Regions from separate parts of the Homo sapiens genome. Here regions 1, 2 and 3 are each linked to region 4. Evidence: fine-mapped expression QTL. A gene starts in region 4. Each other region holds a variant in brackets. All regions are shown on one strand. Distances are between the middles of the regions.

Region 1 (2,685 bases), 110 kb before region 4:
ACACCTAATTTGTAGAATTTCCTGAATATCCAGCAATTCTCCAACATCAACCAGTTGTTTAACATTTTATCTCACACTACTCAAAATCAGTGCAGATCCCACAAGTCCAGAGTTTAGTCCCACAATACTGTCCTTACTGCAGATGCCCGTCACAAGTCCCAGGTGCTCATCTGTACTTCTGAGTGACTGTCTAGAGCAGCTACTTTAAATGGTTCAAATTATTGAACCCCTCCTGGAATTGAATAATGTGATTAAACTACTCACAGAACTCGGCAAAACACTATACTTGTGTTTACCAGTTTGTTCTATAAGATACAATGCAGGAACAGTCAAATGGAAGAGGTGTATAGAAAAAAGGAAAGTGGTGTGAAAAGATGGGGGCACACAGAAAATTTTGGTAAATAACTGTGATTAATAAAAATTTCTCATCTATTGTGTTCTCCAGGAGCAGCTTAATGAAAATAAACAACTTTCCCATTGTGACTTAGATGATGCTTGCTTTTTTCACCTATCACATAGCCAGACACAGACTCTACAAATTTTCATCATTTTCCCATAAAGAATCAGCTGAACAATTGTCTTTAGTGATCATAACAACATACTTTTTAATCCAACTTTGCTTAAGTTTCTCTCCTTCCCCAGACTCCTGAACTTTGACCCAATCTCAGTCTGAGCAAACATACAACCTCATGTTATGTCCCTGCTAAAAAGATACTGACTTCAGGGTAAAATATTCTCTGATCTAGAGTCTGATTTTGCCACCCTTCATCCTGCCCTCCCCTCCCATCTCCTTTCTAATCTTGTTTGCTTCTCCCTAGGAAAGACAGCCCTTGTATGCCTAACCTTTGAGGTCCTCAAAGATCTTATAGTCTGTACTACCCCCTCTTGTAATACTCCTTTGGAAATTCAAAACTTTTTACTTAAATCTGACTTTTTTTATTTGACAGAGTCTAGAAACAACCCCAGGTCAATAAAAATTTCATCCTCAGAAAGACCCTCCCAATGCCCTTCCATCCCAACCCCAGCTGCATCTGCCTATGGATCCCCAGCTCGCCTGGGCTCTGTAGCTTCTCTCAGTAGAAAGGATTCTTCCATGGCTGGGGTGAGCGGGCTGGGACACCTGCAGGAAAGGCTCCTCAGGAAGAAATAACTGGACCTTCAATAACCTTTTTTTGCAGTCTCAATATTGGCCTTAGCTTGGAGTCACTGGGCTCAGGCTTCAATTCCCAGTCAGAGTTATTCACTTGGCTTTTTAATACTAAGTGTTTGAAAAATTCAGCAAAATTGCTCAAACACAGAGTTTATATAAGGGAAGAAAATTTTAGGCCGGGCATGGTGGCTCATGCCTGTAATCCCAGCACTTTGGGTGGCCAAGGCGGGTGGATCACGAGGTCAGGAGTTCCAGACCAGCCTGACCAACATGGTGAAACCCCGTCTCTAATAAAAATACAAAAATTAACCAGACATGGTGGTGCACACCTGTAATCCCAGCTACTCAGGAGGCTGAGGCAGGAGAATTGCTTGAGCCCAGGAGGCGGAGTTTGCAGTGAGCCTAGATCATGCCACTGCACTCCAGCCTGGAAGACAGAGCGAGACTCCATCTCAAAAAAAAAA[GA/G]AAAAAAAAAAAAAGAAGAAAATTTTAAAGTGCTTACTTACATTCCATGACTTAACAAAAAAAGCAAAACTATCCCTTTCAGACAATAAACATGTCATTAAATTATTTTATAACAAATCATTTAGTAAACAATTAGTCACTTGGGAACACTGCTAGGAGGTGGCAAGTCCCATCTCATAAAATTTAGCATTTATACTCAAAAATCAAGATAACAGGATATAGAGCAGAGATAGCCACTGTCACAATTCACCCTACAAAAATCGGAACTGTTTTGATGAATCTACACATTTCACCAACTGATCTATCATATTTTCTTGTAGAAATATATTCATTATCTATAGCCATAATGGAATAAACATTTTTTCCTATTCTTTTTCCCAGTAGCACTCCCAAAGCTAAGCCCTGGGATTTTGTTTGAATCTTCCCTCTCTTAAAAAAAAAAAACACTTGACAACCTTTCTACACTCACTCTGGGGAACAAAAAGGCAAATAAGAATTTTTAACAAATGGAATGTATGACTAAATATTTAATTTTTTCCTGAAACCTACCTTTTTCATGTCCTTTGTATATTTTCTTAACCTTTCAAGCTCTACTGATAAAATGTAATTTACAGTTAAAAAACTAATAAGTGAACAAATATCTTCGAGGTGAAAAACCTAGAAATTCAAATGCTCATTGGAATACAGATGTGTTTGATTCATGTGTCAAGTCAGGCCATCCAACAAATGAGAGATCCTCCCACCCTCATCCTGATCGCTTAAGTGCTCAATGACCATGCTCCAGGAGAAACTATGCTATGCCCCAGTGAGGGCCTCAAGTGCATTTTACTTTGCAGGTTCTTGCACCATCTCACTGGGTTGGGTAGTTTTTGTTTTTTGGACTATTTTCTTTCCTTCACAAATCTGAAAGAATCAAGGGCAAAAATTATTTCTCTCTTTTAACCTCAGTACCAGCATCTGATTAGCTGACCAGCAATATGTCTCCAAGAAATGGAAGCTGGGTTGGATGAAGGCAAACTTAATGTCTCAAGGGGTTAGCTTTTTAGAGGAAGGGTACACCAGGAGATGTC
Region 2 (2,685 bases), 200 kb after region 4:
TCTTAAGTGGGTAACTCATAAATGGGTAATCGCTTCTAAAAGTGACTGTGGTGATGGATGCACAGCTTCATGAATATTCTAAAAACTACTGAATTTCTCTCTTTCTTTCCTTTCTCTCTCTCTCCGTCTCTCTTTACTTCTTTCCTCTCTCACTCTCTCTCTTTCTCGACATGGTCTCCTTCTGTCACCCACACTAGTGCAGTACCGCCATCTGGTCTCACTGCAACCTATATGCCTTCTGGGCTTAAGTGATCTTCCAGCATCATGTCCTCAAGTAGCTAAGACTACAGGCATGAGCCACCATATCCAGCTAATTTTTGTATTTTTTCTAGAGATGCTGTTTTGCCATGTTGCCCAGGCTAGTCTCGAACTCCTGAACTCAAGCAATCCACCTACCTCAGCCTCCCAAAGTCTTAGCGTTATAGGAATTAGCCAATACACCCAGCCTGAATTGCACACTTTGATAAATGAATTGTGTGAGATGTTAATCATATTTCAATTAAATTATTATTATAAAAAGGGCCAGATGCAGTGGCTCACACCTGTAATCCCGGCACTTTGGGCGGCCAAGGTGGGCCAACTGCCTGAGGTCAGGAGTTCAAGACCAGTCTGGCCAACATGGTGAAACCACATCTCTACTAAAAATAGAGCAAAAATTAGCCAGGTATGGTGGCATGCGCCTGTAATCCCAGCTACTCGGGAGGCTGAGGCAGGGGAATTGCTTGAAACAGGGAGGTGGAGGTTGCAGTGAGCCGAGATGGCACCACTGTACTCCAGCCTGGACAACTGAGCTAGACTCCATCTCAAAAAAAAAAAAAAAAGAAAATGGGGGTTGAGCACAGGTGGCTCAGGCCTGTGCATAATTCCAGCACTTTGGGAAGCTGAGACAGAGAGATCACTTGAGGCCAGGAGTTTGACACCATCCTGGGCAACATAGCAAGATCCCATCTCAACAATAAAAAATAAAGAAGTTAGCTAGGCACGGGGGCAAACGTCTGTAGTCCCAGCTACTTGGGAGGCTGAGGTTGGAGGATTGTTTCAGCCCAGGGGTTTCAGGCTGCATTGAGACATAATCAAGCCACTGCACTGCAGCCTGGTGACAGAGCAAGAGCTTGTCTCTAGGAAGAAAAACAAAAGTAATGCAAGTTTTCGTCACCTTCTGAGAGTAATCGACTTTCAGGAGGACTAGAAAAACAAAAAAAAGGACCACTGAATGGTTGAGGGTGTGTTCCTGGTTAGGCTCAGTTGCTGGCTGAGTAGTATCTGAAAAATTAATTAGTAAAATTACAGCTCTAGGGATCAGTCATGCAGTCACCATAGCCAGGACTACAAGTGAGCATCACAACTCCCAGCTACTTTTTTTTTTTTTTTTTTTTTTGTGGAGACAGAAGCCTTGCTATGTGCCCAAGCTGGCCTCAAAACTCCCACCCTCAAGAGATCTT[C/T]CCACCTCGACAACCAGAGTAACTGATTCTACAGACACATGCCACCGTGTCTGGATAATTATATTTTATTATTATTTATTTGTGTAGAGAGGAGATCTTGCTATGTTGCCAAGGGTGGTCTCAAACTCCTGGACTTAAAACAATCCCCCCATCTCTGCCTCCCAAAGTGCTGGCACTACAGGCATAAGCCACTGCACCAGCCTGACTTAAGGTTTCCTTAATCTAGCAACCCATACTTCATATAATTGGGAAAGGCAGTACTGTTTTTTTTTTTTTAATTACTTAGTATTTCAACAAGAATCAACCATCTCTCAGGGCCAGGCACGGTGGCTCACGCCTGTAATCCCAGCACTTTGGGAGGCCAAGGTGGGTGGATCAAAAGGTCAGGAGTTCGAGAACAGCCTGGTCAATATGGTGAAACCCCGTCTCTACAAAAAAATGCAAAAATTAGCCAGGCGTGGTAGCAGGTGCCTGTAGTCCCAGCTACTCAGGAGGCCGAGGCGGAAGACTCTCTTGAACCTGGGAGGTGTAGGTTGCAGTGAGCTGAGATCTCCCCACTGCACTCCAGCCTGGGCAACAGAGCGAGACTCCGTCTCAAAAAAGAAAAGAAAAAAGAAAAAAAAAGAATCAGCCATCTCTCACCATTGCCATGACCCTGGTCAAAAACACTTATCTCCCATCTGGATGTTGCCACAGCTTGGCCTCCCTGCTTCTACCCAAATCTTCCCACAATCTTTCTCAACTCAGCAGCCAAGGGATGCTTTTAAATCAGGAGACAGATCATGTTGCCTCTCTGCTCAGAACCCTCCCACAGTTCCGATCTCAGTCAGAGTAAAAGCCAAAGCCCCAGCAAGAGCCTCCCAGAGATTACACAATCTTTACTGATCAGACACACCATGGAGTTCCCTCCTAGCATCTTTATCCTGTTGTTTCTGCCTACAATGCTCTCACCTCAGCACCTTGGCCAGTTGCTTCCCCCACTTCAAGTCTTTGATAAATTTTCACTTAGGGCAACCCTGGCCACTCTATTTAATATTGCCATCTGTCCCCATTCCTGCCATGCTCTTTTTTTTCCACAAAATCTCGCTGTGCCACTCAGGCTGGGGTGCCATGGCACAATCACGACTGAGACCTCGAACTCACTGGTGAAGCAATCGTCCTGCCTCAGCCTCTCTAGTAGCTAAAGACTACAGGTGCATGCCACCACACCTGCTAATTTTTTAAAAAATATATGGAGCATCAC
Region 3 (2,685 bases), 290 kb before region 4:
ATAACATTCTGAGTTACTCCAGAATGCATAAAAGGGGCACTAGATACTCTTCTCATGTATGTGTGTGTGTCTGTCTATACATGTATGTACACTTCATGGTGCATCAGCTGGCGGAACCCTCAGGACACCCCTTCACATCCCCAGTGCTCCATTTCACACATGAGGAAACTGTTCATGACAGCACATGGCTGATTTGCATAAAAGTCACTTGGTCAGCAGTTGTTGAAGCTGAACTTGGAATCTAGGTCTGTCTGACCTTAACTATGTTCCTTCCACAGAGCCACGTTCATTCCATAGAGGAACCCACCACCTATAAAACCAGAAAAGAGACAAAGCCAGAAGTGCAGGTTGGATTTCTTAACACAAGCTCACTGCGACCTCTAGTCCTCATCACGCTGACACTAAGCTTAAACCCAGACCCTTCTACAGTTTTGTCTACAAAGCACAATTTGCCCAAAGCCTTTACAAACACCAACAGCCTTTCTTTCAGATATGGCAGCAGGGTCACATCTTACACGGCCCTGATCACATTTTCTCTCCTCTGCCATCCCCATCTCTCTGACTCAGTCCTCGCTTGCAGCCATAAAAATGGATGAGTTCATGTCCTTTGTAGGGGCATGGATGAAGCTGGAAACCATCATTCTCAGCAAACTATCGCAAGGACAAAAAAACCAATCACTGCATGTTCTCACTCACAGGTGGGAATTGAACAATGAGAACATATGGACACAGGAAGGGGAACATCACACACCAGGGCCTGTCGTGGGGTGGGGGGAGGGGGGAGGGATAGCATTAGGAGGTATACCTTATGTAAATGACGAGTTAATGGGTGCAGCACACCAACATGGCACATGTATACATATGTAACAAACCTGCACGTTGTGCACATGTACCCTAGAACTTAAAGAACAATAATAATAATAAAAAAAAGAATGAGTCTTGTACATCTAATTTGCCTCACAAATGTTAAAACAGCAAACCCGCATCCCCTTCCTCTTCTCATGTGCTGTGAGGGATGACCTCCAGGCTCTCAGATACTAAGATTGTACAAGACCTAACCCAGAGAATTACTCAAGACACTCTACATAAGAAGAATTGTGGTGCTAGCTCTCCTCATAGAAAAATATTTTCTGTCTCTTGTTGAGATTGACAGCAAACACAAAAACACGGAACTATTTGGGAGAACAGAAGACAGTGATACACTAGGGAAGTAAAACACACCCCTTCCCCTTGCATTGGTTTCCTGTTGCTGCTGTAACAAATTACCACAACCTTACTGCTCCACATAACACAAGTGTATTATCTTACATTTCTGGAGGTCAGAAGTCTCAATGAAGTAAAATCAAGGAGTAATAGGGCTCTATTCAGTCTAGGCTTCAAGAGAGAGAATCCAATATTGAGCATTCCGTCTTTCTGATGTTCCCACATTCCTAGCAGCCTGGCCCGTTCCTCCACCACTCCAGTTTCCCTGTCCATTGTCCCAGGTCCTCTCTGGCTGTTACCTTCCTCCCTCCCTATTGTAAGGACCCTTGTGATTATGATGGTCTCACCCAGATAATTCAGGATACTCTCCTGACCCCAAAATTCTCAACCATGTCTGCC[G/A]AGTTATTTTTGACATATTCATAAGTAACGATCATAGATTCCAGATATTAGGACAATGATGTCTTTAGTGGGTGTATTATTCATTCCACAAACAACTCTCATCATCCACACAATGGTCTTCCCCTAAGGTAGAATAAAAATATCACAAGGCAGATTTATGAGGCGATCGACCTAGAAAAAACCTGAGACTCTAGGACTGTCTGATGTGTGGATGTCAAATCCTGGGAGATTCTGAGTCTCTGCTCTATGTGGACTCTATGTTGTGTAGCCATTTGTGGAAGGCTTCTGTGATTTTGTGACCTAGAGAAAATGAATCTCTGCTAAAATCAAATCTAAGAAAGATTGGCAAAGGGAATTTAAATATTTCCTAAATTTTTGGAATTTCCCTAGGCATTAAAACATGAGAAGTGGCAATAATTCAAACCAACGATGCCCTCCAAGAATAAGGATTTTTCCAATGCATTAGGTTGGGTCCCCTCAGTGAGAAGGATGCCAAAGATTCGCATGTAGACAGTATATTTACAAAGTGCGGGAAACAAGCAAGTGAGCAAGGGAGGGGAGGAGGGAAAGGGAAAGTGAAAGGTGCCTCAGAAGGAGCCACCTCTGAGGATGACGAGAGCTCAAGCCCACATAGAAACACAGGAAAAATGCCTCTGTTATTCCACCTGAGAGGTGAGGGAGCTGGGGGATGTGTACACCTCCCTTGTCATCACTGATTGACAGCCGTCCTAGGGGATGCTAATTCCAGGCCATGAGGTCTGCCTCATTTGCAGCCTGAGCTGCTTCCCCAGGTTCAGATAGAGCAGTGAAGGGGAGAAAGGGCCATAGAGAGTCAGCTGAAGTATAATGACTAGAATCCCCAAGGCGTAGTAACAATGACTGCTAAAATTATGCACAAAGAAAAAGCGCATTTGAATCCAGAGATGTATCTCTCTGAATCTGGATATATGGATCCTGGCAGCCTGTTCAGTAGCCATTTCCCAGAAATCCAGTCCTCTGGAAAAGCAGCAGGAGGTTTGTGCACAGGCTGCACTACCTTGGTCTGGCCACTGGTAGTCGTGCATGAGAACTACTCCCTGGAGT
Region 4 (2,685 bases):
AGGGTTTTTGCATATGTTACTTTAATTATGACTTTAATTGCTTAAAGTATTTCCTGGAAACACGAAGTTGTTAACAAGTGTTAGTTATTTTTGTTTGAGAGAATTTCAAGAGATTGAAATTATCAACAGAGGAATGTGAAAGTCGTTGGGCATTAAGCTAAGCCATAAAAACTTTACCCTGAAAATCGTGGGGGTGTCCTTGAATGCCCACGAGTTTAATTTCCATTTTCTGCCTGAGGTTTTAAGGAGTATGCAGGATTAGGAGGGTAAACACTCATAGCTCATTAGTCTAACAGTGAAGAAACCATGAGGGCCTAGAGTAATGGAAAGGCAATGAAGTGAAAAGACAGTTAAAATGTGTAATTTTCCAAATACAGAACTGAGATATTTAAAAGGATTGTATGTGGTGGTTGGGTGCCATTACAAAGGAGGTGGATGAATTTTAGGCGTCTAGATTTGTGGTGCTGATGGTTGGGCAGGGGACAAGCACACAGGGAAACAAGGAAAAAAGATGTATTTAGGTTTAGGTAAAAATATCACATGCTCAGTATCCAATTCCTGTTAAACACCTGGAGATGGGAGTCTGTGGTGCAAAGGGAGTTCGAGTTTAACTATACACGATTGGGTGATGCTGGCATGCAAGGAGAGATGAAGCCATGGATTTCATTAAGGACCCCAATCTGAATGTGGACCGCACACAAGAATCAGAACCAAAACCTGGACACAGCCAAGACTGCAGGTTTCTCTTCCCTTGCTCCAAATCCACTTTCAGAAGAATTAGAGAAGAATTGACTAAAGAATGTAAGTAAACTCCAGGAAACAGGGTTCCACAGAAGCTGGGGAAAGGTCAGTACGTGGAAGAGAGAGATCAGTAGTACCTGCTCGCTACAAGGAGGCGCCTCCAAATGTCAATGCCTATTTTCAACAAGTGGGACCCAAAGTGATTCATGCCAGTGCTCTAAAATACACCTGACCCTTGAACAATGTGGGGGATATGGATGCTAACCCCCCACAGTCAAAAATCCAAGTTTAACTCTCAACTCCCCCAAAGCATAACTCCTAACGGCCTGCGGTTGACCGGAAGTCTTTGTCACTAATAATACAAAAAATTAAGACCTATTTTGCCTGTTATTCACATTACACACTGAATATGCTGCTCCCAGCGGAGGCCGAGACTCCTGCCCGGGCACCCCCTCACAGCCCCCACTCCAGCCTCCCCAGACTCACCCTCGGCGGGGCCACCTTCTTCTCATTTCAGTCTGGGGCCACATTCTCCGGGCCTGCGGGGCATGGCAGGAGGCAAAGCCAAAGGCGAAGTGGCCACAAATTCCGGTGGGGGCGCTGGCTCCTGCCCCACCCCAGCATCTATACCCTGAGTCTGATAGGACGAGAAGGAACATTTCAGCCAGCCCTGATTGGGTCATATTATCCAATCAGAGTTGTTTTGCACAGTGGCTCTCATCCAATCCGAACATGCCTTACAGGATATCTAGTTAAATAAGTCATTATAAATAGTTGCTCCGTGGGCTTTCCGCATTTCACCCTGCTCCAGGCAGCGTGGTCTGTATGGCTCCGCCCTGGGCAGGAGGAGAAAGAAGAGGGCCAGGCACCACGTGCCTGCACTCTCCCTGGATGCTGGAGGCTGCTCCGCCGTGGGCAGGAGGAGAAGGAAGAGAACTGGGTGCCGCCTGCCTGCACTCTCTCCGGATGCTGGAGGCTGGAGGCAGTGAGGCAGCAACAGCGCGAGGGCGAGGCGACTTTGGAGCTGCCTCATGCAGCGACCTCGCCTTCCGCTGCGCCTCCTCCCAGAACCCAAGAAGCCTGGAACCTGTGGCGTCCAGCCCTGAAAGGAGGAGACGGCAACCCAGCCGCGCGTGAGTCCGGGAGTCTGGGATACCGGCGGCAGAGGAAGGACAGGCAGGAGTCTCGGCCTCTCGGGGAGCGACGTGCCGGGAAAGGCAGGAGGGCCCCAGCGGTGGGGGCGGGGGTTGCGCGCCGGGGAGGGCGGCCTCAGGCTGGGAGCCTGGCAGATCGTCTGACTCTCCCCGAGCCCCATCCCAGGCCGAGCCAGGACCCCTCTGATGCACAGGCGTCTCAGGAGCCCGTTTCTTTCTTGAATCCGGGGCCCAGTGCGGCTTGAACCTAGCCCCCGACCTCCTCCTCGCCCTCTCAGAGTCCGCTGGGGTGGGCGCTGAAGGAGCCCGGGTCGGAGAGGAGCCCTCCCCTTCTCTCCTGCGTGGAAGCCCTGCAGCCTCCGTTTCTTTTGGGACTGGGGTCCGGGGCCTTCTGCCTGACCCGGGGTGAGAAAGGGAGCCCTGATCAGGACCCGGTGAGAGGGCGCTGGAGCCCGGGAGCGGCAGGAGCCTTGAGCGGCAGCCCGGGAAGAGGATGGGGTCACCTTCTGCCCCAGGTCCCCCACTGCCAGGATCTCTGTCACCTTCTGGGGGTCCTGTCCCCTGGGGTCCCACCCCCCGGGCTGCCTGTGGGTATCTCTCATCTGGAACTGGAAATAACCCTCTTCATAGTACGGCTTAGCAAATATTTATTCGCCCATGCACCCCCCTTTTTTTTCCTTCATAGTGTTCTTTTTGTCTTGGATCATTTGTGTTTTTCCTACATTGATGTGAAGCATTTTTAAAGACACTTTAGAGATTAGTCCTTTATTGGTTCATTTCTATTGTAGGT

What was found. PIP is the estimated chance that this variant, and not a neighbour inherited with it, causes the effect.
Region 1: its variant is fine-mapped to the expression of LINC00839 in prefrontal cortex (CommonMind, PIP 0.95).
Region 2: its variant is fine-mapped to the expression of LINC00839 in fibroblasts (GTEx, PIP above 0.99). The same link has a PIP of 0.9 or more in subcutaneous fat and uterus.
Region 3: its variant is fine-mapped to the expression of LINC00839 in esophagus muscle (GTEx, PIP above 0.99). The same link has a PIP of 0.9 or more in gastroesophageal junction and prostate.

Annotation. Positions count from the first base shown.
Region 1 is chr10:42,362,505-42,365,189 of GRCh38, forward strand. It overlaps the pseudogene LOC441666. Among named protein-coding and RNA genes, the nearest start is that of LINC00839, 110 kb to the right of the region's middle. The variant GA/G (reference allele first, on the strand shown) is at 1,615.
Region 2 is chr10:42,678,165-42,680,849 of GRCh38, forward strand. All of the region lies in intron 4 of LINC01518 (long intergenic non-protein coding RNA 1518), which reads right to left. Among named protein-coding and RNA genes, the nearest start is that of LINC01518, 12 kb to the right of the region's middle. The variant C/T (reference allele first, on the strand shown) is at 1,443.
Region 3 is chr10:42,181,286-42,183,970 of GRCh38, forward strand. No RefSeq gene overlaps it. Among named protein-coding and RNA genes, the nearest start is that of LINC00839, 290 kb to the right of the region's middle. The variant G/A (reference allele first, on the strand shown) is at 1,603.
Region 4 is chr10:42,474,007-42,476,691 of GRCh38, forward strand. LINC00839 (long intergenic non-protein coding RNA 839) reads left to right here and starts at 1,485. Exons shown (of 5, transcript NR_026827.1): 1 at 1,485-1,874.